Regions from separate parts of the Homo sapiens genome. Here all the other regions are linked to region 3. The links come from fine-mapping of genetic effects on gene expression. A gene starts in region 3. Each other region holds a variant in brackets. All regions are shown on one strand. Distances are between the middles of the regions.

Evidence for each region.
Region 1: its variant is fine-mapped to the expression of AHRR in whole blood (TOPMed, PIP above 0.99).
Region 2: its variant is fine-mapped to the expression of AHRR in whole blood (TOPMed, PIP above 0.99).

Annotation. Positions count from the first base shown.
Region 1 is chr5:497,416-505,583 of GRCh38, forward strand. The region is part of intron 1 of SLC9A3 (solute carrier family 9 member A3); the gene reads right to left. Among named protein-coding and RNA genes, the nearest start is that of SLC9A3, 23 kb to the right of the region's middle. The variant A/C (reference allele first, on the strand shown) is at 5,004.
Region 2 is chr5:473,388-481,555 of GRCh38, forward strand. It overlaps SLC9A3 (solute carrier family 9 member A3), which reads right to left. Exons shown (of 17, transcript NM_004174.4): 10 at 6,449-6,578; 11 at 3,945-4,057; 12 at 3,156-3,285; 13 at 2,815-2,991; 14 at 2,633-2,705; 15 at 2,174-2,284; 16 at 1,496-1,745. It overlaps SLC9A3-AS1 (SLC9A3 antisense RNA 1), which reads left to right. Exons shown (of 7, transcript NR_125375.1): 1 at 1-12; 2 at 1,750-1,932; 3 at 2,845-3,176; 4 at 3,857-3,949; 5 at 4,419-4,462; 6 at 6,395-6,829; 7 at 6,975-7,505. Among named protein-coding and RNA genes, the nearest start is that of SLC9A3-AS1, 4.2 kb to the left of the region's middle. RefSeq lists a silencer at 1-556 and enhancers at 1,741-2,381, 4,777-4,946. The variant G/A (reference allele first, on the strand shown) is at 3,363.
Region 3 is chr5:317,590-325,757 of GRCh38, forward strand. AHRR (aryl hydrocarbon receptor repressor) reads left to right here and starts at 4,125. Exons shown (of 11, transcript NM_001377236.1): 1 at 4,125-4,230. The region is part of intron 3 of PDCD6-AHRR (PDCD6-AHRR readthrough (NMD candidate)); the gene reads left to right. RefSeq lists enhancers at 928-1,227, 4,361-4,928, 5,017-5,136 and silencers at 3,337-3,596, 3,747-4,236, 4,327-4,706, 4,717-4,776.

The sequences.
Region 1 (8,168 bases), 180 kb after region 3:
GAATGTCAGGCTGACACCTGTGTCTGAGCCTGTCTGGGCACCGGGACTGCTGTGAAGGACACAGTCAGCCGGACTTTGCTTAGTTCACCTGTCGGAGCCACTCGTTCACGTTTATCTCTGTCTGGTTGTCAGAATAAATTGTTTCCAACCAGGAAACAAGGATATCTCTTAACACAATTGTTCTATTCTTTGGTTATTCCTCCACTTCAAAGAAGCTTCCTGAAGCTTCCAGATCCCCTGCAGCCCCCCTGAGCCGCTGACCCTGACCCCTGGGAGTGAAGCCTCATCTGCCCCTGTCCTGGGTGGGGTCGCCCGGCCGCATCCCCAGCCTCTGCCCCTGTCCCGGGTGGGGTCGCCCGGCCGCATCCCCAGCCTCTGCCCCTGTCCCGGGTGGGGTCGCCCGGCCGCATCCCCAGCCTCTGCCCCTGTCCCGGGTGGGGTCGCCCGGCCGCATCCCCAGCCTCTGCCCCTGTCCCGGGTGGGGTCGCCCGGCCGCATCCCCAGCCTCTGCCCTCCGACAACTCAGGCACCTGCTGGTCAGCTATGAAGCCTTAGCCTCGCTTGTGGGAGTCCCTGCCTCACGGATGCCGGCCTCCTGCCTCGGCCACCGCCCTCCTCTTCAAGGATGCTGTTTTGCCTCTGGTCGCTCTATCTTATCTTTTTTCTCCGCACTCCTGGACGTCTCTCGGACCTTTCGCTCTGACAGTGGCTTGAGCCTCGGCCGCCACTTCCGCCCCTGCTACTTCGGGGCCACGTCTCGGTCCGACGCTGAGGGGTGCTGCCAACCGTGTCTTCTCTGTGAACGTCCTCACGATGAACGCCCCCGTTCCACTTCCCACCCTGGAGCTGCTGCTTCCGTGACTCACATTCCGGCCATTTCCGTGGTGTGAGGTACGGGCGGGACTCCTTCTGCTTCTTGTCACACTTGTCCCGGGCTGGGCTCTTCCCCGCCAGCCCCACTTCCTGCCTTCCAGCATCAGTCCAGCCACTGAGCCCTTTTCTTTTGAGACATCATCTCGTTCTGTCACCTGGACTGGAGTGCAGCGGCACCACCTCGGCTCACTGCAACCTCCGCCTCCTGGGTTCAAGCGATTCTCCTGCCTCAGCCTCTGAGTAGCTGGGATTACAGGCGTGCGCCACCATGCCCAGCAAATTTTTGTATTTTTTGTAGAGATGGAGTTTCACCATGCTGGCCAGGCTGGTCTTAAACTCCTGGGGTCAAGCGACACGCCCACCTCGGTCGTCCACAGTGCTGGGATCACAGGCGTGAGCCACCGTGCCTGGCCAACCGTGTCTTCTCCCCTTGCTTGTGCCCGCCGTGGAAGGTTCTGTGGACATTCTCTGCACAACCCCGCTTTGGGAAGAGTGCCCCTGCTGGCCTCGGCTGCCTCTCCTGGGGTGTGTCTCCCTGCTGAGCTGGCTTTGGGTGGGACACTGCTTTCTACCCATTCTCCTGTGGCAGAGGAGTCCTGCAGCGTCTCCTCTGGTATCGGATGGCAGTTTCGCCCCAGCCAGGGTGGGGGGTCTCCTGGGCTTCTGCTTCTTCCTCCTGAGGAGGTGCCAAGGCCAGGCCTCTCCTTGGTGACCCTGCATCTCCCTGGTTTGGGACACTGGACTGGGGACCAAGAGAGGGGAAGGGTCTCGTTCTCATCTTCTCCTGAAACCAGGGGCTCTGCGGTTGATGGAAGTCCTCAGAGGGCGTCCTCAGCCTGGGGCTGGTCTGCTCCACACGGCTTTTCCCAAGGACCCATGGCCTCCTCTTGAACGGCAGTCTGCATTGTAATTAGCTGGTGAAACCAAGAACTCAATTGGTTTTAAGAGGCAATTTGCTAGTAGTTTGGCAATTAAGCACACAATGGACGTTTGGGAGCCAAGTCCCTGTGCTGTGAGCCCTGCAGGGTCCAGTTCCTGCTGCCAGTCGGTATTGAGTGCCAGGGACTGGCCTGGCATGAGGGCCTGACCCGGGCAGTGCTGTCCACATGCACACAGCCGGGGCCACCCCGCTTTCTGGGGGCATCTGCCGGCACCAACCAGGCCTGGGCCTGTGGTTAGGGCCTGTTCCACAGACTCATTCCAGGCAAGGCGCTTACTTACTGCCACAATCTGCACGTTTTTAGGATGGGATGACGACACTTGGGTTCCAGGGTCCCTGTGTGGAAACGTCCCCACATGCTGGGCCGTCCTTCCTTCCTGTGCCCTCTGTCCGCCATCTCCAGACACCGCCCAGTGCCTGATGCCGTCTGCAGCTCCCTCTGGTCTGACAACCAGTCACTCCTGCTCCCTGGGGACACGTGGGCCCTCGAGGCTCTAGAACGGGAGGGAGGTGGCTGGCAGGGCCCGAGATAATGCCAAGGTGGCTCCTAGAGACCTTGCATCTGCGCATAACGTCTCCGTAGATCAGCAGAAGGCCCAGCCACTCCCAGTCCAGGGTCCAGCCCCTCTGTAGGGGCCACTGCTCAAGCCAGCATGGCTACAGAGATACCATGGGAGTGTGGAGGGGCCACTGCACCTCAAAGAAGAAGGAACCCACAGCCCTGGGCCCCGTCGGAGCCACCACAGGCGCAGGGCACAGCCTCCTCGGCCCAGAGCTGTTGGGCAGGAGCTGCAGGGTGGCTGGGACGCAACAGGCAGCGACATCTTCAACCTTCTACCAGAAGAGCCTCAGGTCCACCGCACTGACTGCGGCAACCCCGGCCCTGTGGGTTGAAAGGGCAGAGGGTGTCTGAGGCCTTAAGGAAATGAAGAGAATAGAACTCGCCCCATGGCACACACTGTGAGGGAACCAGGCGGTGTGGGACCCTCCCGAGACGCACTATGCAGAGCCTGGGCTCAGCCACACAACTGCAGAAGCCAAACCACGAGAAGCTCCACAGACGGAACCGGCTTCCGGCACCACTGGGACACGCCACGAGGCTCCCCCAGCTAGGTGCACACACGGCATGCGACTGGCGTGGATCCCTGGCGAGAATGGAAGGGGGGGTGGCAGGAGACGGGGACGGGACCCTCCAGGGACACAGGAAACACACACCAAGCACGGAGAGGCCAGGCGGGCCGGTGTGGACAGGGGGCCGGTGTGGACACGGGGCCAGTGTAGATGGGGCCAGTGTGGACGGGGCTGGTGTGGGAGGGGCTGGTGTGGATGGGTCAGTGTGGACACAGGGCCGGTGTGGACATGGGGTCAGTGTGGAAGGGGCCGGTGTGGATGGGGCAGGCGTGGATGGGGCTGGTGTGGACATGGGGCTAGTATGGATGGGGCTGGTGTGGATGGGGCCGTGTGGATGGGGCCAGTGTGGATGGGGCTGGTGGGTGTGGACGGGGCTGGTGTGGACGGGGTCAGTGTGGACACAGGGCCAGTGTGGACATGGGGTCAGTGTGGAAGGGGCTGGTGTGGATGGGGCAGGCGTGGATGGGGCTGGTGGGTGTGGACGGGGCTGGTGTGGATGGGGCCAGTGTGGACACAGAGTCAGTGTGGACATGGGGTCGGTGTGGACGAGGCTGGTGTGGACACGGGCCGGTGTGGACAGGGCCAGGCCCTGAGTCCGCCTGCCACAGCCCGTGTGGCTTCCACACAAGGGGACAAACCTGGGGACACGCAGGCCCTCAGGTAACTGATTGCCGAGGCTGGAGAGTCACAGCTAATTAAGCACACAATGGCTTGGTGGCCTGATGGTTACGACAGGGGACAGACGCTTTTAGTTCTAATTACAAACCCTGTGCCTGGAGGAGGAAGGGCCGGCGCTGGCAAACCAGACATTTCCGGATGGGCGCCGGAAAGGGCTTCTCTCTGGGCCCCGGGGGGCTCAGGAAGGCCACGGCCCAATGCATGTCACACCCCTCGGAGCACAGAGGGACGGGGCTTGGTCAGGCCCAGGGCCTCCGCCACCTCCAAGGACCTTTCAAGGTGGCAGAGATTCAGCCGAGTCCACAAAAATGCAACAGCGCAGTCAATCCTGTGGTTTTACTTTAACAGGAACACGTCCCGGAGGATTAAACTCTGCCTCCCAGAAACAGCCTGGCTGAGCGGTGGGGCGGTGAGGCCAGGAAGGAGGGCGGAAGCACAGGTACCCACCCTCCCGGGGGACGAGGGGCCGGGGCATTCCACAGGCAGGCGCAGACACATGCAGGAACACGTGCACGCACACAGAGACTCGCAGAGACGCAGAGACGTGCAGAGACACACAGAGGAGACACGCACAGGGTCCACCCTGTTCTCCTAGCACAGCTGTGGGTCTGAGTTCTCTGCCACCCGCCCCTGCAGGTCCAGCAGAGCTCGCCAGCACACTCTGACCTCAGTATCACTTTACCCGCCTGTGGGGCACCGGCGAGGAATCACGGTAAATGTGTCGGCCGTCAAGCCCAGGGCGGAGGTAAAGGTGCTCACGGAGGTCCGCCGTGCGGCCTGGCAGACGTGCCTGCGTGACCCCACGCGTCCCTGCCTGCGGGTGCAGTTCCCCGTGAGTACTCAGGTTGGCGTGGGACAGGGGAGCCGGCTCCCGGGGGCCACGCAGGAAGCCCCTCTCCGAGCGAGGCCGGGCCCCCGGGCCGGGAAGCTGCTTCCTGCCAGATGAAGTTCACACAGCTCCAAGAACAACAGCCCGTTCAGGACTGGACTCCCTGCGCTCAAGTCACAAGGCGTTTTACACATTGTACATTTACAACACTCGAGCAAACCTGGTCGGTTTTTAAATTGAAACATGAATGTTGCCCACGGTTCCCTAGAGAATCAGGAGATCCTTCGACTCCAAACCACCCTGAGCAACCGCGCTGGGGCAAAATGAACGCAGCCTCTGAGCCAGCCACGGCCTCTGTCCAGGACGCTGGGCAGACCCCACACCCCTTCCTCTCTGGGACCCAGCCGCTCCGGCCCCCCACCCCCAGAGACGGCCCAGGCCCCCTTATTAGCAGCGTGAGAACAGACAGACACAGGCAGGTCCCAAGCTGCCCACAGCAGAGGAAAGACCTGGATGCAGATCCCAGCTGCCACCACCTCAGGGCTTTGCTCA[A/C]AGCAGCAACAAGCTTCAGCTACCGCAGACCCAGCGGCGCCTACCAGGGGCCGCAGCGGAGCACAGTCCCCGGCAAGACACCGGTCGCAACGTCCTGGGGCAACGGAAGTCACGAGACACGTGAAGTGGGAATGTGGCCCAGCTCAAATCAGAGGAGAACGCAAGATGGTCAGACCCTGGAATCAGCAGACAAGGGCCTAAAACAGCAGCTCAAGGATAGAAAAGAAACGTTCTCATAACCACTTAAAAAGGACAAGCCGCAGCGGTGGAGTGGAACAGGGCTTGGCACATTTTTTCTTAAAGGCAGATTGTGAGTATTTTAGGTCCTGCAAGCTGCCAACAGGAGGATCACTTCATAACCACTCACTACCAGTGAGGCCGAAAGCCGCTGTAACGACACAGACGGGCGCCGAAAGCCGCCGTAATGACACAGATGGGCGCTGTGTTCCAGTGAAACTTTACCACTCACTACCAGTGAGGCCGAAAGCCGCCGTAACGACACAGATGGGCGCTGTGTTCCAGTGAAACTTTACCACTCACTACCACTGAGGCCGAAAGCCGCTGTAACGACACAGATGGGCGTTCCAGTGAAACTTTATTTACAACAACCAGTGGCCGGCCCACGGGCTGTAGTTTGCTGATGCCTAAAATAGAACTTATCAAAGAGAACCAAGCAGAAACCCTAGAATCTCTGACATAAAAACTCAATGGATAGACTTACGAGCAGACAGAAATGACAGTAAAGAGAGTGAACTGGAAGACAGATCAGAAGAAATCATCCCATCGGAAGACCAAGGAGAAAAAATGGTTTTTAAAGTAACCAGAGCCTCAGTGGCCTGTGGGGCAAAATCAATAGCTTGTAGCCGCAGCACTTTGGGAGGCCAAGGCAGGAGGATCGCTTGAACCCAGGAGTTCAAGACCAGCCTGGGCAACACAGCAAAACCCCTTCTCGACAAAATAAATTAAAACATTAGCTGAGCCTGGTGGTTTGTGCCCATAGTCCCAGCTACTCAGGGGGCTGAGGCCAGAGGGTCCATTGAGCCTGGGCGGGTTGAGGCTGCACCCCAGTCTGGGTGACAGTGAGCGAGGCCCCCATCCTTGCCCAGAAAAAGGCCTGATATATGTGTAGCTGGAGCTCTGGAAGGAAGGGAGAATGGGGCGGGGAAACCTTGAAGAGCGAATGGTAAAAAATGTCCCCAGTTTGGTGAAAGACACACATTTATAGATTTGAGAAATTTTGCAAGCTCCAAGCAATGCAAGTACAGGGAAAATCCTGCCTGTGGGCACGGCACAGTCAGACTGCTGAAAATCAAAAACAAATGGAGAATCTTTCCATCTGTATAATGTGTGTGAGTTACCAATAAAGAACTTTCTTCTTGTTCCATGAAATGGGCAAGGAAGGCGTGTCTGCTGGAAATCTCATCCACGGCTGTGGTTTCTCCTGAATCGGCGAATCGTCTGCGCGAGGCTGGGGCCTCTGGACAGAAGACTGGGCCCCCAGAGCTCTTGGGGGGTTCCCATCTTCACCCGGTGCCTGGATTCTCAGGGTCCCACCCACCCCCACCTTCCTCACACTTCACCCTCTCTTCTCTCTTGCCCTTATAAAATCATTCACTTCAAAGTAGAAATTATGAAACCGTCTTCATCAATCACGGAAGTTTAGCATTCCCCGTGTTTTTGCCTTTGGTTTATCAACAACTAAACAAGGGAAGGGAACAAGCTTCTGCAGAAGCTTCCAGCAAGGAGACAGCGTCCTATATGAGGCGCCTGGGGAGGGAAGGTGCCGGAAGGCATCGCTGTGGGGCTGCCGCCAGCTCCGGAACCCCCGGGAACCCAAGGGGCACACGTCTCCCCGTGTTCTTGCAGCCCCCGCGTCCCGTGACCCACCCAGGAGGTGTGACCTGCCCTCCTTGCTTCAGGCTCCCCTCTGTAAAGTGAGGAAATAGCCCCCCGGGGCTGCAGCCAGGGCCCAGGGCGGTGGACATGCAGGGTCCAGGACTGGCTGAACCTTGAGCCGCTGCAGGGGCCGTTGGATTTGGCCCTCGGGAGAGAACTCCACAGCCTCCTCCAGTGTGTCCGGCGGCGGCAGCCAGGGAGGGTGCCGGGACCTTCAGACCACACAGCAAGCGGCCAGATCTCAGGCTCCCCGGGCTCACGGCCCCGCTGCCTCCTCCTGTCACCCCCGGGTGAGCCCAGAGGGCTCGGGGTGGGGACAGCAGACAAACCCTCAGCTGCTGGGCAGTGCCTCCCTCTGGGGCCATGGGCACCGGGACCTGCACCCCTCAGCGCTGTGAGGCCACTGTCTCTAAACGTGGGGGCTGAAGGGGAAGGGGTGTTCGTGCCCAGCTCCTGGCCGGCCACCGACATGGCCCCTTCATGGGGGCCGGGCCAGAGGCTCAGAAGGGGAGGGCAGGGGTGCGGCTGGTTGAGTGGCATACAGCGGGGGCTCACACCTCGGCTAGCAAAGTGGCTCCCAGACCCGGACGCCTGTGCCTGGAAGAGCAGCAGACGCCTGCAGGGCACAGTGGCCACGTGGGCGCCACACAGAGCCCAGTGCTGAGAAGCAGGGGCCAGCAGCTGCCACCCCTCCCCTGCTTTCCCTGTGCAAATGGGAAAAGGCCTCAGAACAGCGTGGACGCAGTGACCCCTTTAACAGAATGAGGGGATGGAATCCCGGGTGGCTGGAGACCTGGACAAATGAGAAACAGCATCCTCCTCCATTTTTAGCTTCAGAGGCTCTTAAGGGAGGGAGGCTGCTGTGGGAGGAGCATCTGGATGTGTGCTGGGGGGTGACCATCGAGGGGGGTGGGGGAGAGTGACCATGGGGGGGGGAGAGTGACTGTGGGGGGGTGGGGAGTGACCACGGGGTGAAGAGTGACTGTAGGAGGGTGGGGAGTGACCACGGAGAGGGGAGAGTGACTGTAGGGGGGTGGGGAGTGACCATGGAAGGGGGAGAGTGACTGTTGGGGGGTGGGGAGTGACCGCGGGGTGAAGAGTGACTGTAGGAGGGTGGGGAGTGACCATGGAAGGGGGAGAGTGACTGTTGGGGGGTGGAGAGTGACCACAGAGGGGAGAGTGACTGTGGGGGGGTGGGGAGTGACCACGGGGGGAGAGTGACTGGGGGGGTGGGGTGGGGAGTGACCACGGAGGTGAGAGTGACTGTGG
Region 2 (8,168 bases), 160 kb after region 3:
GGAGAGGAAGGCGTGAGCGGCGCGCGGAGCCCGGGCGCTGGGGCGGGAGGGGCGTCCCCGGGGGCCTCAGCTGTCCCCGAGCCCGGCGGCTCTCGCCTCCCCTCCCGCGGCGCACCCCAGGCTCGGCGTCCGCTGGGGCCTCCTCCCAGGACCCGGGTTCGCGGGGCAGAGGCGGAAGCAGCAACAGCGAAGCCCCAGCCCGGCCCCGCCACGTCCCCCCGCCGGGGGTCCCGGGACAGCGGCCTCCTCGGCGCAGGAAGGTCCCGCCCCAGGCCCTGCAGCGCGGGAGGTCAAGGTCCCCAAGGGGACCTGCTTCCTCCATCTCAAACCGCCCTGGCGTCCCCCGGGTGCCTCCCAGGCCCCCAGAGGGAGCTCAGAAAGCCCAGACCCCACGGCCCGCCCCTCTCCCTGCTCTGAGCTGGAGGCAGAGTCCGGGTCTGCGGGGCCGGCCCTCCCTGTATCCCTGTGAGAGGGTCGGGGACCCGGGGCGTCTGTCTGGCTTCCCCCAGCCCTGCTCTCAGCTCCCTGGGAGCGCAGGATTTGGACTCGCGGACTAGCTTTCGGAGCCACCTAAAGGAAATCTCAGGCGGCCCTAGTGCCCTCAGCTCCGTGGGAGCAGCAGAGACGCCAGAGTATCTCTGTCCGGGCTCCTGAGGGAGGTGCGGCCAGCAGGGCGCTAGAGGAGGAAGAGGGGCTGCTGGAGAGAGAGAGCGCGCCAGGTTCAGGTCCAGGGAGGAGAGAGAGCGAGCGCGCGAGGCGGAGACCTGGAGGGAGAGGAGCTGCGGAGAGGGGTTAGGCGGGGAGGGAGAGAGAGAACCAGGTTCCGGTCCAGGGAGGAGAGAGACAGCGCGCGCGAGGCGGAGACCTGGAGGAGAGGAGCTGCGGAGAGGGGTTAGGCGGGGAGAGAGAGAGAGCGAGCCAGGTTCAGGTCCAGGGAGGAGAGAGACAGCGCGCGCGAGGCGGAGACCTGGAGGGAGAGGAGCTGCGGAGAGGGGTTAGGCGGGGAGGGAGAGAGAGAACCAGGTTCAGGTCCAGGGAGGAGAGAGACAGCGCGCGCGAGGCGGAGACCTGGAGGAGAGGAGCTGCGGAGAGGGGTTAGGCGGGGAGAGAGAGAGAGCGAGCCAGGTTCAGGTCCAGGGAGGAGAGAGACAGCGCGCGCGAGGCGGAGACCTGGAGGGAGAGGAGCTGCGGAGAGGGGTTAGGCGGGGAGGGAGAGAGCCAGGTTCAGGTCCAGGGAGGAGAGAGACAGCGCGCGCGAGGCGGAGACCTGGAGGGAGAGGAGCTGCGGAGAGGGGTTAGGCGGGGAGAGAGAGAGCGAGCCAGGTTCAGGTCCAGGGAGGAGAGAGACAGCGCGCGCGAGGCGGAGACCTGGAGGGAGAGGAGCTGCGGAGAGGGGTTAGGCGGGGAGGGAGAGAGACAGCGCGCGCGAGGCGGAGACCTGGAGGGAGAGGAGCTGCGGAGAGGGGTTAGGCGGCGGGAGGCCCGGGAGCGTTACATGTGTGTGGACTCGGGGAGGGCGGCGGGGGGCCGCTCCTCGGGGCCGTCTGCCTGCAGGAAGGAGTCCACGGACTTGCTGCTGAGGCGGAAGGGCATCAGGCGGCAGAAGGTGCCGGGAGAGTAGGGAATCTGCGTGCGGGCCCTCTGCGAGGGGACCACCGTCTCCCCGGGAGACAGCCAGGGCGGCAGCCTGGCCAGGAGGCTGCGGTCCAGGGCCTCGTCCGGAGAAAACACAGGGTTGTCAATTCCTAGGAGAGAGGGCAGCGGCTAGTCAGCCTTCGGAGAGCCCCACGGCGGCAGGGGAGACCTCGCCGGGGCCGTCACCTGCTGGGTGCCTTGGAAAGTTAGGGTCACCGGGAAGGTTAGGGTCACGTGCCTTTCAGGTTGCGGGCCCTTCCCCCACATCCATGACCCCACACGCCACAGGCAGCACAGGTAACGTCTCGCTTCCCTCAAGACATACCCCACCTGCTCCCTGCCCGGCCCACGTCTCCCCGGACAGCAGCCTCCGAGTTGGTTGAGGGGGCACTCAGTGGGTGCCAAGCAGGGCCCTTGAGAACCCACAGGAGACCCCACCCCCCCAGGTCCCAGTGCCCCTGGTCCAATGACCGAGCTCCCTCCTGGGGCGGCAGGAGCCACCCCTCCCTTAGCCACGACGCCTGTGCCCCGTCCCCACCTGCAGGGGAGTCGGACGCTGTGTCCTTGGTGACACTAGCCAGGAACTCGATCCCCCCACTCATCTCCTCATCATAGTTGGGGGGCTCCTCGGTGTCTGAAAGTTCCAAGTCTGGGGAAGACAGGTTGGGGTGAGGACTGGGGTCACTGGGGGGCTGTCCTCACAGCCCAGTCAGCAGTGTCCATCAGCTCTGTGCACAGAGGTGCAGGCAGTCGGGACCCACAGAGAGGAGGGCTAAACCGCAGGGCTGGAGGAGGGACCCCACTTAGAGGGCAGTGTCCCTGGAACCCCATCCTGGGTGGGTCTGCAGCTGGGGCCCTGACCATGCCTCCCCTGCCTGGGTGGCTGGAGGGTCCCCAGAGGGGAAGGTCCTGAGAGGGGAGGTTCCCGAGCCGGGAGGGCTGGGGCTGGGAGGTGGTGGCTCCCAGTCCCAGCGTTCCTGCAGGGCCCCCAGCGCACCTTTCTCCTTGATGGTGAAATTCTGCGCAGGGCTCTCCATGGGCAGCTTCCCATTGGGGATGCTGCTGTTTCTCTGCGGAGCAAACGTGAAGCTGCTCACACCCCGACACAGCCACACCCAGCCCTGACTGCCCCCGCTCCAGGCCCCAGCCCCGCCAAGCCTCCTGGTGACCCAGCCTTACCCGCTTCTGGGCACGCTCCCGCTTGTACAGCTTGGCCGCCTTCTTGTTCTGGTTGAGCCCCAGCTTGGTCGACTTGAAGGACTCCAGGCGCTTCCGCATGGTCCTGTGGAAGATTTCCCGGTCCTGTTTCTCGTCCTCCGTGGGCGTGAGCTCGTGTCGGCTGTACAGATGCTTGTACTGCGGGATCAGGCACGGAGGTCACAGCTGTGCCCACCGCCGGACATTCTCGCCCTCCTGCCGCAGGAGCTGAGCACGGATCCCCCGTGGTCCCAGGAGGGGACGAGGAAGCCGCCCCACGGGGTCCCTGCGGGGTCCTCCAGCCCCCAGCCCGCAGTGCCCACCTCCTGCCGCGGCTTGTACAGGTACTGCTGTAGCGTGTGGTGCGTGACCATGTCCTCCGCGTCCCGGATGCTCCGCCGTCGCTGCTCCAGAGACTGCATGTCCAGGCAGACAGCGCTGACATTTTCTCTCCTGCGTGGGGACCAGCGCTGAGCCATACAGGCTCCCTCAGGGTGGGGTCTCTTGCGCGCCCCTCGCCTTCCCACGGC[G/A]GGCATCTGGCCCTGGCTGCCTCCTGCGTGCCCCTCGCCTTCCCATGGTGGGCACCCGGCTGGGGCACGGGGACATCTGCCATCTGGCCAGCCCCTTCTCCCCTCGGGGCTTAGGCTGACTCCCCACGAGGCCTTCCTGGCCTCCTGTCTGAAGTGGGTCCCTTTCCTTACTGGTCCCTCTCCAAAGCCCTGGCTGTAAGACTCGGGGACCCCAGCATCTGCACATCTGGCAGAGTGGACCTCCTATGAGAACTGGCTGTGAGCTGTGGAGCCCAGGGCCGGAGGAGCAGTAAGGGTGGCATGGGGACCAGGACAGGCTGCTGCGGGCCAGGGGCAAACACGTCAGGCCTGGCCCCCAGTCCGCTGCTGCCCCTCCCTTTCACCTTCCATCCAGCACTAAGGGAGTCTGGCCACGGCCTAATATAGGAGGGCTTGTGGAAGGAGACACCCACCCCCTCTTTCTGCACCTCTCCCCTCTTCCATGCCACCCCCAGGCCAGGAGCCACCACAGCCCTGTCTGTGACTCTCAGCTCCCGAGGCTGGGCTCTTCCCCAGGGAAGCTGCATGACCATGGCCACATACAGGAGGTAGGAGACAGAGGCCTCCACGGTGGACGATCGTGGCGTGAAGTCCACGTTGACCACGTTGTCGGTGCTGGGGGAGCGGATGAAGGCCAGGGACCCGCGGCGCTCTCCCTGTGGTCAGGAAGCAGCCCGGTCAGTGGCCTGAGCAGCCAAGCCCTAGCTGCTGCCATTGTGTGCCCTGGGGGGAAGCGCCCAGAGCTCGGGGCCCGGGGAAAGCCTTGAGACCTGAGCCCCGGGTTCACGCCTCACAGCTGCAGAGGGAGGGGTGGAAATGCCAAAACCAGGAGATCAGATTTTGAGCCCCTGTCCGTCTGAGGCCACAGCCAGGCTGCTGCCTGAACTGGGCAGAGGTCATGCTTGTGGGAGGACACAGTGGTCTGAGTGTGAAGGGGTAAAGCTGCCTGGGACTTGGGATGTGTCTGGGGAAAGTGTTGATACTGCAGAATCATTGAAGTGGTCTCTGTCCCTGCAGGAGACCCTAAAACTCCATTGGCCTCATGTCCAGAACTGAATCAGGTAGAGAACGGAGCAGAGCCCGATGGGGCACAGAAGCCACACAGCTGAGTGCCAGAGGATGGAAGTGGGGCCGCCTATGTGTCCTCAGACCCCACCCGCCTGATGGCAGGGCCTGGAGAGCATGAGGTTGTGCAGGAGCACAGGGCAGAGTGGGCTTATGGCTGGAGTCAGGGTCCCCAGGGCCGGCAGGGGCACGGGTGTGGAGGGAACGTCAGCTCACTGCACTCAGACCTCGCCAGGTGGGCACCCGTGCCGCCTTCAGTGTGCAGGATGCTCCCAGGGAAGCCCCCGGGGTCAGGTGGGTGCCGCTGTTCCCACTGAAGATGCGGCCCCCAGTTCACTGCCCACTCGGGGGGGATTTGAGGGTCATTGGTTCTGAGGGCCCTCCGCCTGCTCTTTTGCTTCTAAATCCAGCATCTTCTGTATGACCTTTGTCCCGCTCCTGCCACCCCACGAAGACAGACGTGAGGGTCAGGGGAGCCACGGTGCTAACTGCCACTCTGGGCGGGCACAGGCGAGGGCTGTGCAGCACCCGGGCACGTGGGGTCTTCGGAGGGGCTGCTCCCCACACCACTTCCCCTGCCCCTGCCGAGCCCTGCCGTGGGGTGGGGGGGCGCAGGGAGAGAAAGCAGCCGCCCTGGGTGAGAGCCAGGAGGGACACTGGGCAGGCAGATGCCACCCCAGGTGTGGGGACCCCCGCTACTGAGTGGCCGGGAGGAGCCCACAGGCTCCCCACATGCAGCTGAGCCCAGGGTTGTGGTCGTGGGTCGTGGGTCAAGGATGGTGGCTGGTGTGGTTGGGGGAGAGGCTCAAGGCCCGCCTGCCAACCTTGTCACCTATGTGGGGGTGAGGGGAGCCCGCCAGAGGCCAGAGCCCCCACTGTCCCTTCCCACCCTCCAGCCAGGCTCCAGGCCTCCTAGGGCCAGAGTATCTGAGCTTTCTCTCGCTTGCCGGGCCTGTGGTTTGGGGGTTTGTGTGGAGCCTGGTCCAGGAGCCCTCCTTCCTGATCTGCACTGGCTGGCCCTCCTGACAGCCCCAGGCCCCCGTGCCCTCTGCCAGGAGGTGCCTTGCCACTTGGCATGGCCCCAGTCACGGGTGGCACATCTGGGGTGAATGCACGTCAGTGGAGGCAGAATCATTCTGTCTGAATGAATGGAGTTTCCAGGCCCCCACTGGCCCTCTGTGTGAGGGTCTGCAGGGTTTGGCAGGACAGGTCTTTCTCTCCGGCGAGAGCACCCACCCTGACCGGCTGCTGGATGAGGGCACCAAAGCTCGCTAGGGAGGGCTCTGTCCTTAGGGAGGAGCTGCGGAATCCCTGCAGCTGTGCCCCCAGGCCCTGCCTTGCACACTTCCTGCAGCCAGGGCGCCCCTGGGGAGGTCAGGGCAGGCCGGGGAGGCTGAGGCCCACCTGCCATAGTGGGCAGGTGCGGGAGCCAGGGCGGCAGTGGCCTCGGGGCTGGGTGGGGCGCCTGGCCTCTGGTCTCTGGAGCAGTCAGGGGCTCTGCAGACGCTGAGAGGCCTGCTCATAGTGGACTGGGAGATGCTGGAGCAGCCTCAGAGCCATGGCCGGCCCACAGCGGGAGACGGCCCTGCTGCTGCCCCTCTGCCTGTGCGTGTGCACCTGTGGGCACCTGCGTGTGCTGGGGCAGGCAGGGCTGTATTGGGACCAGGTCCCGTAACAGCCTGCCTGCTTACCGTCTGCTCCCATCCCTGGGGAAAGCAAGGGAGCTCGGGGTCCTAGGACCTGACCTCAGCGCTCACCCCCACCAGCACCACAGTCACCAGGACTCTGTGACTCAGTTTACCCCACGAGAGCCCCTGGGATTCCCAGGGCATCAGAAGGCCCATCAGCCTCCCGTGAACTGCTGGGGTGGGCCTGGCCTTGGGACGCGGGTGCAGGGGCCTCTCCTCACTGCCCCATGGCACCCACAGCCAGTGCCAGAGCCTGCTGCAGCCCCGACCCGGCAGAGCAAGCGGCTCTGCTACCTCAGCCACGTAGCTGATGGCATCCTTCAGGTTCAGCTCGTGGAAGACATTCAGGATCCGGTCTCGAGACTTCTGGGCCGACCGTCTCATGAGGACCCTGCTGAGGAACTTCCTGTCGAAGTGGGACCACCTGTAGGGACAGACCTTGGGTGTGAGCCTCAGGTGACAGGCGCCCTAGAGCCCGCCGGACGCGTGGCCCGGCCCCTTCTCTCCTGAATTTTGTTTGCTATAGTGACCCTGTAGGCGCGTTTAAAATGAGGGAAGCAGCCCCTGCCACACGCCCAGGCCGTCCGCCGTTCTCCCGCCTGTCCTGTTGGATGGAGGCCGTTAGACGCATATGAAACTGCATGCCGCCTCCTCCAGAGGGTGGCTCAGGACACGGTGGGTGTCAGGCCTGGTCAGGCAAGGGGGCTTTGGCCACATGGGGGGCACCTTCAGGTGCACAGGAGGAAGGGCAGGGGCGGACAGACACCCTGAGCCCTTAGACTTGTGGGAGCCAAGCTGACCAGAGTGAGGTTTTTTTTAGCCTAACGGAATTAGAGTATTCGCTGGTTATCCAGATCAGAAGGGACGGTGGCCTGGCCGGACTTAGAGGAAACTCTGGGGCACAAGGAGGTGATGCCTGTCACTTGGACATGGGTGCAGCCGCCAGAGCCGCCCTCCAGGGCACAGGGTGGGCCCGGGTGAGCTTGTGTGCTCACACCTGGGCAGGCCCCGCGGCAGCAATGGCAGCTCTCCTGTACAGGCTGAGTTTCAGCCACACCAAGAAGTCAAAGCTAACCGAGGCTGTGCCTTCCGAGACCCCCGGGATGGCCCCTGGGAGGCCAAGGAGTCGGGGACTGGGTACCCGGAGCAGAGTCACTGTGGCCACGGAGAACCGCAGCTGAGCTTTATGAAGCCACGTGGCCACACCTCCCGGTGCCTCCACCCCAAGCAAACACAGATCGCTCAGAAAATGGGAACCCAGGGCAAATTGTATGTGCTCCTTACTGGGTTTATTATAAGTGTCACATGTTTTTTATAATAAAACATAGGTGATTTCACCTTAATGGACAAACTCTTTTTTTTATTTTGGGACGAAGTCTCGCTCTGTCACCAGGCTGGAATGTAATGGCGCAATCTCGGCTCACCGCAGCCTCCACCTCCCGGGTTCAAGCGATTCTTGTGCCTTAGCCTCCTGAGTAGCTGGGATTACAGGCCCACGCCACCACCCCTGGCTAATGTTTGTATTTTTAGTAGAGACGGGGTTTCACCATGTTGGCTAGGCTGGTCTCAAACTCCTGACCTCAAGTGAGCTGACCACCTCAGTCTCCCAAAGTGCTGGGATTACAGGCTTGAGCCCTGCCAGACAAAATCATTTTAAATGTTGACTGATACTAACCCTGTTTATGACGTGGAGGAAATAATCTATTTGCCTTATTTTCAATTCCTACATAACAATTTGGAATTAATTGGGCCACATGAGAGGGCATCTCTATTCCCTGGAAGGAGCACAGAGAATTCAGCTCCTGTCCCCTCACTCGGTGGCCCCAACTGCTGCCGCCAACTCCTTTCCGCAGCACCTGCGTGTCTCGGGGCACACCTGGCACCTGGCCTCATGGGGCACCGGAGCCCTGACCAAGCCTGGACTCAAACAGTTGTTATGCATGTGGCTTCTGGTTCTTCCGAGTGGAGGATGTTTCCAGAAGCCGGGCTGTGCGACACCGCCGGGGCCGTCCCA
Region 3 (8,168 bases):
GGGACCCTCAGCGTCACGACCCCGGTCCCAAGACCCAAGACAGCAGGACATGGGGGCACAGCCATCTCTGGGGGCCTCTCCTTCCCCCCGCTCTGGGTCCTCAGTCATCAGTGCAGACATGGAGGTGCAGGTGCACGCCGTACACCCTCACCTGGGGCCCCTGGCCCATGCCTCCCCACCCTCCCTACCCTGATCTCCCCCCACAACCCTACACCTCCCCGGACAACCCTGCACCTCCCCCAACAGCCACCCTGCACCTCCCCGCCACAACCCTGCACCTCCCCCAACAACCCTTCAACTCCCCTCTCACCTTGCACCTGCCCCTCACCCTGCACCTCCCCCCATCCTGTACCTCCCCCCTTCACCCTCCACCTACTCCCAACCCTGCATCTCCCCCCAACCCTGCACCTCCCCACATCCTTCACCTCCCTCCTCACCTGGCACCTCCCCCCATCCTTTCCCTCCCCCAATCCTTCACCTCCCCCCTCCCTTCATCTCCCCCCTCACCCTCCACCTCCCCCCCGCACCCTGCACCTCCCACCCTTACCCTGCACCTCTCCCCATCTTTTACCTCCCTCCCACCCTGCATCTCCCCCCAACCCTGCACCTCCCCCCATCCTTTATTTCCCCCCACCCTGCATCTCCCCCCAACCCTGCACCTCCCCCCATCCTTTACCTCCCCCCACCCTGCATCTCCCCCCAACCCTGCACCTCCCCCAATCCTTCACCTCCCCCCTCACCCTCCACCTCCCCCCCTCACCCTGCGGCAAGCAGAGAGCTGACTCCAGCACAGTGAACTTGGAATGATGGAATGCACCCTGGAAGCAGCTCTGACGGGCGCCACCGTGACTGTGCCCAGCAGGGAGCTCCCTTGTGGTTTTTAACAAAAGACAAAATTCCCCAGGTCCTTCTCTGTGCTACAGGAGAAACTGGTGTGGGAGAGGGAACCCAGGCGTGACCAGGGAGAAACTGGTGTGGGAGAGAGAGGGAACCCAGGCGTGACCAGGGCTGCCCAAGCGGCTCCCTGTGAGGCATCAACGCTGGAGACACAGCAGTCATGGGGAACCCGGGGAACCCGGGAAACCCAGCCGCCATCAGAGAGCCAGAGAGCCGCAGGCGCCTGTGCGGGGTCCTGGCCTGGCCCGAGGGGTCAGCACACCCCTGTCTGCCTCTGAGGTCAGGGCCCTGGGGGCTCCTGACCTGGCCTGCCTGTGGGAGGCAAAGGTGTGGCCAGGAGAGGACAGGAGGGGGCAGTCACAGTCACCACTCCTGGAGGCCCATGAAGAGCAGCTTTGCCCCCACACTTCTGTGAAGCCAACTTGGGCCTGTTTGGGAGGGGCCTGGCGCTGCAGCCGGCCGTGGGCACCTGCCATGTGGCGGTCCACTGGAGGCCAAGTCCAGCTCATATGGCTCTGGGGACCCACCGCACCAGACTCCAGTGTGGGGGTACCCGGAGCTGGGGGTGGGTCCTCGGAGGCTTCCAGTCCTGCCCCAGCTGCCATCCCTGCCAGGTGTTAGCGCCTCTGGTTCAGAGTCCCGAGAGGACCAGTGGCCCAGGAGAAAGGGGTGTGTCTCCAGCTGCTGGGAGTGTGGGTGGGAGCCAGAGGGTTCAATGACACTGGGGACAGCAAGTCCGGACTGGAGGGAGGAGACCTCCTGAACAGGGTCCCCAGCACAGAGGCAGAAAGGAGACTCTGTGACTGGGGGTGTCAGCTGCATCTGGACCTTCGTGGTGGGGAGGGAGGCACGCCCAATAGCCCGTCTGAACGGGAGGTGGCTCAGGGATCCCCCATTGTGCTGGTGGGGTGCCCAGAGACTCCAGGACTCCACGTGGGGCTCTGCCTGCTAAACCCTGAGACTTTAGGGGCAGTGGCTCCCACGGCAGGGTCATCCTTTTTCTGCACAGTCCCACTGGCTGCCCCAGGTCCTGCAGAGACCTGAGACTTTGGGGACAAGCACAGGGGACAGGTGGGCGTGGATGGCCTGTGCCGGTCAAGGGCAGTGGGAAGGAAGGAGGAGCAGTTTCCTTCTGTACCCAGGAAATAGAGTAACAAAGTGTCTCATTCCAGTTGGTTCTGGTGGGACAGGGTAGGTGGAAGGGAACCCGTGCTTGCCCTGAGACATGGGGGTGCTGTCTTCCCATGCAGGGGGACTGCGGCTCACCACCATCACATTCTACCCACAGGTTCTTATTTTAACAGATCACAAAGGTACTATGTGCTTCTTGCAAAAATTTACAGGAATTGTAGACTTTTCAAAAAGTAAAAAGAAATTAAAGTTCACCTGTTACCTCAGAGTTATCCAGCTACACATTTTCTGTGCATAATTCACTTTACAAAAATTGGATCAAGATAAAACTAATGATTTTTAAAAATACAGCAATATAGTTGCACATTGTTCCATATCAAAAAATAAATGTGTGCACCCAGGGCTCCTGGCTGTCTCAGTGGCATAGTGGCTCATGCCTGTAATCCCAACACTTTGGCAAGCCGAGGTGGGTGGATCACCTGAGGTCAGGAGTTCGAGACCAGCCTGGCCAAGATGGCAAAACCACTATCTACTTAAAAAAAAAAAAAAATTAGCCAGGTGTGGTGGCGCGCGACTGTAATCCCAGCTACTTGGGAGGCTGAGGCACGAGAATCGCTTGAGCCCTGGAGGCAGAGGCTGCAGTGAACTGAGATCGCACCACTGCTCTCAGGCCTGGGTGACAAAGCAAGACTCTGTCCCAAAAAAGCCCATTTACTCAGCTCACATTTTTGAGCCTCTGCTATTCGACAGGAACCAGAGGTGAGCAGAGCCGACTTGGTGACCCCTGGGGACAGAGCGGCAGAACTCAGCAATTCTGGGCTGCCCTGCAGGAGCTACACCCGGGGAGGGGCGGTGGCCACTTGGGGGCAGGGTGGGCTTCTCAGCTGCGCCCACCCCACCTTGGGAGCTGTGTCTGGAAAAGAGACTTTTCCTGAGCCGACAGCAGACAGCGAGTGCAAAGGCCCCAAGGCCCGCACGCCTTATTCAGAGAACAGCAGGAGGCGCGGGGCGGGTTGGGGGCGTCAGGGAGACGGGGTTTGACTGAGAACCTGGGGGCGCCAGTGACAGCCTCGGCCGCGTTGCTGAAAACCGACCTTGCGGGATGAAGAGGGCGCGGTTCCCCCGGCTGGGATGAGGACCGCGGATGCTGAGGAGCGGACTCCAGGGACCACCGACTCCATGGCCGGCCCCAGCGAGGGCGAGAACGGGTGGAAGCCGGCCAGGGTCTGTGGAGACGTCAGGGTGCGAGGCCAGGCTGAGGTGTCCCCAGGGATCCCCTGAGGGTACAGGGAATTCAGCCAGGGCCTGCGCGCCCGGACGGAGGACTAGAGGGGGCCAAGGACCACCGGGAGGGGGAAGGAGAAGGCGCAGCCCGAGGTCGGAGGGGCCGGCGGGCGCGCAGAGGGCGCGGGGTGAGCCCTAAGGACCTGCAGGCAGGACCCTGCTCTCGGCCGCGCGGTCCCGGGTGCCGACCGGCGGGGTGGGCGGGGCAGGGGCACCCAGGGCCGCACACCTGCCGCGTGGGACCCTGAAATGCCCAGGACGAAGAACGTCGCACGGACGACCCTGCCGTGCCTGGCGCGCGTCCGCTTCCTGGGAAGCTCAGGATCCAAAAGCATCTTAATATTCTCTATAATTCGCCAAAAACCATGACTCCTTTTACATTTTCGAAACGACCTCATGGGGCAGGCGAGGGGGCACACGCTCTCCTCACTTTACCTGTTCGGGTCTACACCGCCCGGCTCTAGGGCCGGCAGCTCAGCACAGCCGGCCGCGAGCGCTGGGGAGGGGACGGGGGCGCAGGGAGAACCGGGGGACCCTGGGCGCACACAGACCCCAGGGGGAACGCAGGGCCTGGAGGGGCTCAGCGCGCGACCCCCGCCTCGGGGCACGGAGACTCCGGGGGATCACTGGGACGCGAAGGGCGCAGGGCGGACCCCAGGGGAACCGGATGGCGTCTCCGGTTCGCCAGGGCAGCTGGGGCAGCCGGACCCGAGACAGCCGGACCCGCGGGCGCCCTCTGCCGCCTCCCGGCCCTGGATGCTGCGGGGCGGGGCGGGCGGCTCGCGTGCCGGGGTGGGGCAGTCCCTGGAGCCGCCGCGGGTTCCCGGGATGCGAGCGCCGGCACCCGCCGCCACAGCTCCTGGCCAGGGCGCGCTGCCCCGCGGGTGTGCCTGAGCCTCCGCGCCCCGCAGGCCCTGGGTAAGTGTCCTGGGCGCCCCCGCAGGCCCCCGCCGCGTGCCGCCCGCGGTGGAGACGGGATGCGCTCCCGGGTGTGGGGCTGAGGGACGGGCGCCGGCGTCGGGACCCTCCTCACGCCGCATCCTCGCGTCGCCAGGCCCGGCGGCCCCGGGACGGGGCGGACACTCTGGGGTGCGGCTGGCTGGTCTCACTTAAAACTCGGACCTCGGAGGGAAGCCGCGGCGCGTCCACGGTTCGTGGTCCTCAGCGTCCCCTCGAGAGTGTTCTGAGCCTTCACTCCCCGGGCGTTCCGTGCGGGCCGCGCTCCCTGGGGCTGGGCGGGTGCGGGCGGCGGAGCGGGGCCCCGCTGTCGGGCCGAGGGCGCCAGGTCCGGGGGGCCTCACCCCCGGGAAAGGCCCATGTTCAGGCTTGGTTTCAGTAGCACCCAGTAGCGCTGAAGTCTTATTTTGAGCGGCCAGAATTCCCAGACCGGATGCCCTGAGAGAGCGATGTGGCGCCTGGAGTCCACGCTGGGACCCCTTCTGGGGAGGGGTCGCCATGGGCGCGTGACAGGCAGGGGCCACCCTCTGACCTCTTCTGCGAGGCCGGAGGTCAGAGACCTTGTGCAGAAGCGTCCCACGGGCCTGTCCCACGGGCCTGTCCGGCTGTGGCCTCCGGGATGGCAAGGGCAGGCGGGGAGGGGCTTCCTCCCTGGGCCTCCTGTGCGCGCGCACAGGCTCTCGTCTGCGGGGTTCTTGCAGAAGGGTGGGCGTGTGCGCGCGTTCTCCAAACGCCACCCCCACGGGGCCTCACAGCCGCCCCGGCCTGGCAACCGTCACCCATTTTACGAACGAGGACATCAAGGTAGGTCGCTCATCCAGCCTCTCAGAGCAAGTGACTGGCGGCGTTTGGACTCGGGCCGAGTGTGCCATACCCATCCCGCACAAAGCCGGGGCTCGATGCGGCCCCAGAGTCGCTGAAAAGCCACGAGTAACAAGAACTGGAGAACGTAGGATGCTGACCCGGCGGACGCCGCCGCCTGGGGAGCCGCTTCGACGGGGGGGACGCCACCGCCTGGGGAACGGCTTTTATTTTCGTTTTCTTACTTATCTGTATTCTCTAAAATGAACAGACACGAGTTTTACCACGGGAGAAAGGTTCTTAGAAAAATTCAGATTTCTCAGAGGAGTGCTGTCAGCTCACAGCCTGGTGGGGTTGGGAGGCCCCAGATGGCCCTGGCCGACCCCTCTGTCCCGTGTGGGACCTGCCCGTGAGCAGCACCCAGGAGTCTGTCGAGGCCCCACCCGTGGTCCCCGGCTGAGCCCCTGGCTGCAGTGGGTAGGGTCCTCCCCTGTCCCCCAATTACCTATGAGGCAGCTTCGACCTGTGTCCCAGGCAGAGAAGAACGCTGCCGTCAGGAGGCCGGGGACAGCTGAGTCTTGCCTCACAGGGGCATTTCTGTGGGGAGTTTGGTCCAGTCCAAAGGAGGCTCCATCTGTTGAGGTGAGTTCATGAGTATTTTGTAAAATGGAACAACCTATTGTAATAGCATCCCTCCTCCTGTATTTAGGCTAGGTATGGCAAGAACTGAGACACACTTCCCTGCCACCCCCTCGCATCTCTGCCAGTAGGGCCAGGAAGTTCAGATATGCTCAGGTGACCACCTGAACTCCGCGAGGCTTTTCTCTAAAGTATTATCAGCAACTGTTTCTCAAACTACTTTATCTTGATCCTTGTGCCAAATTATTTATTTCCTGCAACTGTGAGGCCCCTCCTTCATGTGGCCTGGTGTTCCCGGGAGCAGGCCTTGTGATCAGAGGGAGACGGCTTGTGGCTTAACAGGGTCTTCCCACCTCGTTCACCCGTGCTGGGTGCTGAGACGCCGGGGGAGGGGGAGGCAGCTGTGGTTCCAGCCGTCGTCATTTGCAATGCAGTTGGAGAGATGCCGCCGGGTGGCCCTGACCAGTGTTAAGTGGTTAATACGACACAGAAGCGGGAAAGCGCCATGTGGTCTGGGGTGATCAGGCATTGAAGGAGACTCAACGGAGCTCCTTGCGGAGGAGAGTCGGCTCACAGACAGGCAGGAATGAACAGGCCGATCTGCTAGGGGCTGATGACTCGGGTAGGAAAGACTTGGCGGCCCTGAAACACCTTGCCTAGCTCGCTCTTCCTTCCCTCCTTCCTTCCTACCTTCCTTTCTTTTTTTCTCTTTCTTTCTTTCTTTCTCTCTCTCTCTCTGTCTCTCTTTCTCTCTCTCTCTCTTTCTTTCCTTTTCTTTCGAGACAGAGTCTTGTTCTGTCACCCAGGCTGGAGTGCAATGGCGCTTTCTTGGCTCACTGCAACCTCTGCCTCCCAGGTTCAAGCAATTCTCCTGCCTCAGCCTCCCAAGTAGCTGGGACTACAGGTGTGAGCCACCACACTTGGCTAATTTTTGTATTTTTGGTAGAGACAGGGTTTCACTGTCTCTACTAAATGTTGGCCAGGCTGGTCTCGAACTCCTGACGTCATGCTCTCCCCACCTCGGCCTCCCAAAGTGCTGGGATTACAGACATGAGCCACCACGCCCAGCCGCCTAGCTGTTTCAATGCGATGAGTTATAGCCAAAGGTGCTTCCACTTGGAATTTTTTTTTTAATAAAAATATATTCATTTATATAAAAAAATTAAAAAAAAAAAGAACTGAGGCACAAGCAAAACCTGAAACTGGGCCAGGTGTGGTGGCTCACACCTATAATCCCAGCACCTTGGGAGGCTGAGGCGGGTGGATCACCTGAGGTCGGGAGTTCGAGACCAGCCTGACCAACATGGAGAAATCCTGTCTTTACTTAAAAAAATACAAAAATTAGCCGGGTGTGGTGGCCTATGCCTGTAATCCCAGCTACTCGAGAGGCTGAGGCAGGAGAATTGCTTGAACCTGGGAGGTGGAGGTTGTGGTGAGCCAAAGTCACACCATTGCACTCCAGCCTGGGCAACAAGAGTGAAACTCCGTCTCAAAAAAACAAAAACAAAAAACGAAAAACCCAAAACTGGTTATTCAGGGGGCACTGGCTGTGGGGAGGGGGTAGGCAGGCCAGCTCCTTGGATTTCCTCGGGGCCCCTCCCCCACACCGCCCACAGGGAATATTTATCTGCTTCTGGTGATTTTTACCAGAACCCTTGATTTTAGAACCGTTCCACAGCACTGAGCTGGAGACACCTGGGAGAACGTGGCTTTGCCCAGGCGTTGCAGGGCGAGTAGTCACTGGTATGTGAGGCTGAGGAGGGCAACGAGGCTTCCGTCTCAATTCCGGCTACTCGGAAGGGAGTTTGGGATTTTGGGGACAAGAAGGATCTGCACTAGCCCCACCTCTGACAACATCCCCTGCCCCGCTTCATCTTCCCAGCTGTCCCACCACCCCCCGACCCGCTCTTGCCCTGTGGCTCTGCACTCATTTGGGGACGAGGGTTGGTCAGGCTGGTGGTGCCTGGGCTCAGGGTCTTCTGGGGCTGGTGTAGGTCACCCTATCCCCTTTACCTTCCTTGACCTCAAGGGGTGGTCGAGTGGGTTTGCTCTATGCCCGGCCCACCTTGGGGTGCTGGGAACCGTCTCTGGCCTGTTCTCCCCACCAGACTGGGGCCAGGCTTGGGTGCGGCTTGGGAGTTTCCTGTTTGAGTCGAAAGGCCTTGCAGTTCTGATGGGATGTCCTTGCAGGCTGGCCTCCAGCCACCAAGTGCCCAACCTGGTTTCTGGGAGAAGTGCACTGGGCCAGACACGTGACCATGATGGAGACGAGGCTGGGCATCCCACAGCACCTCGGGGGGAGGGCTGGACCCTTCCGAAGCATCCGTCCCACCCTCCGCACCACCTCCACCCACCCACCGGCATCTGTCCCTGCTCCAATCTGCCATTTGCTTTCTTTCTTAACATTCCACATATTTTGCTTATATTTATTTGTAAATTTGTGTCCTATGTGTTACATG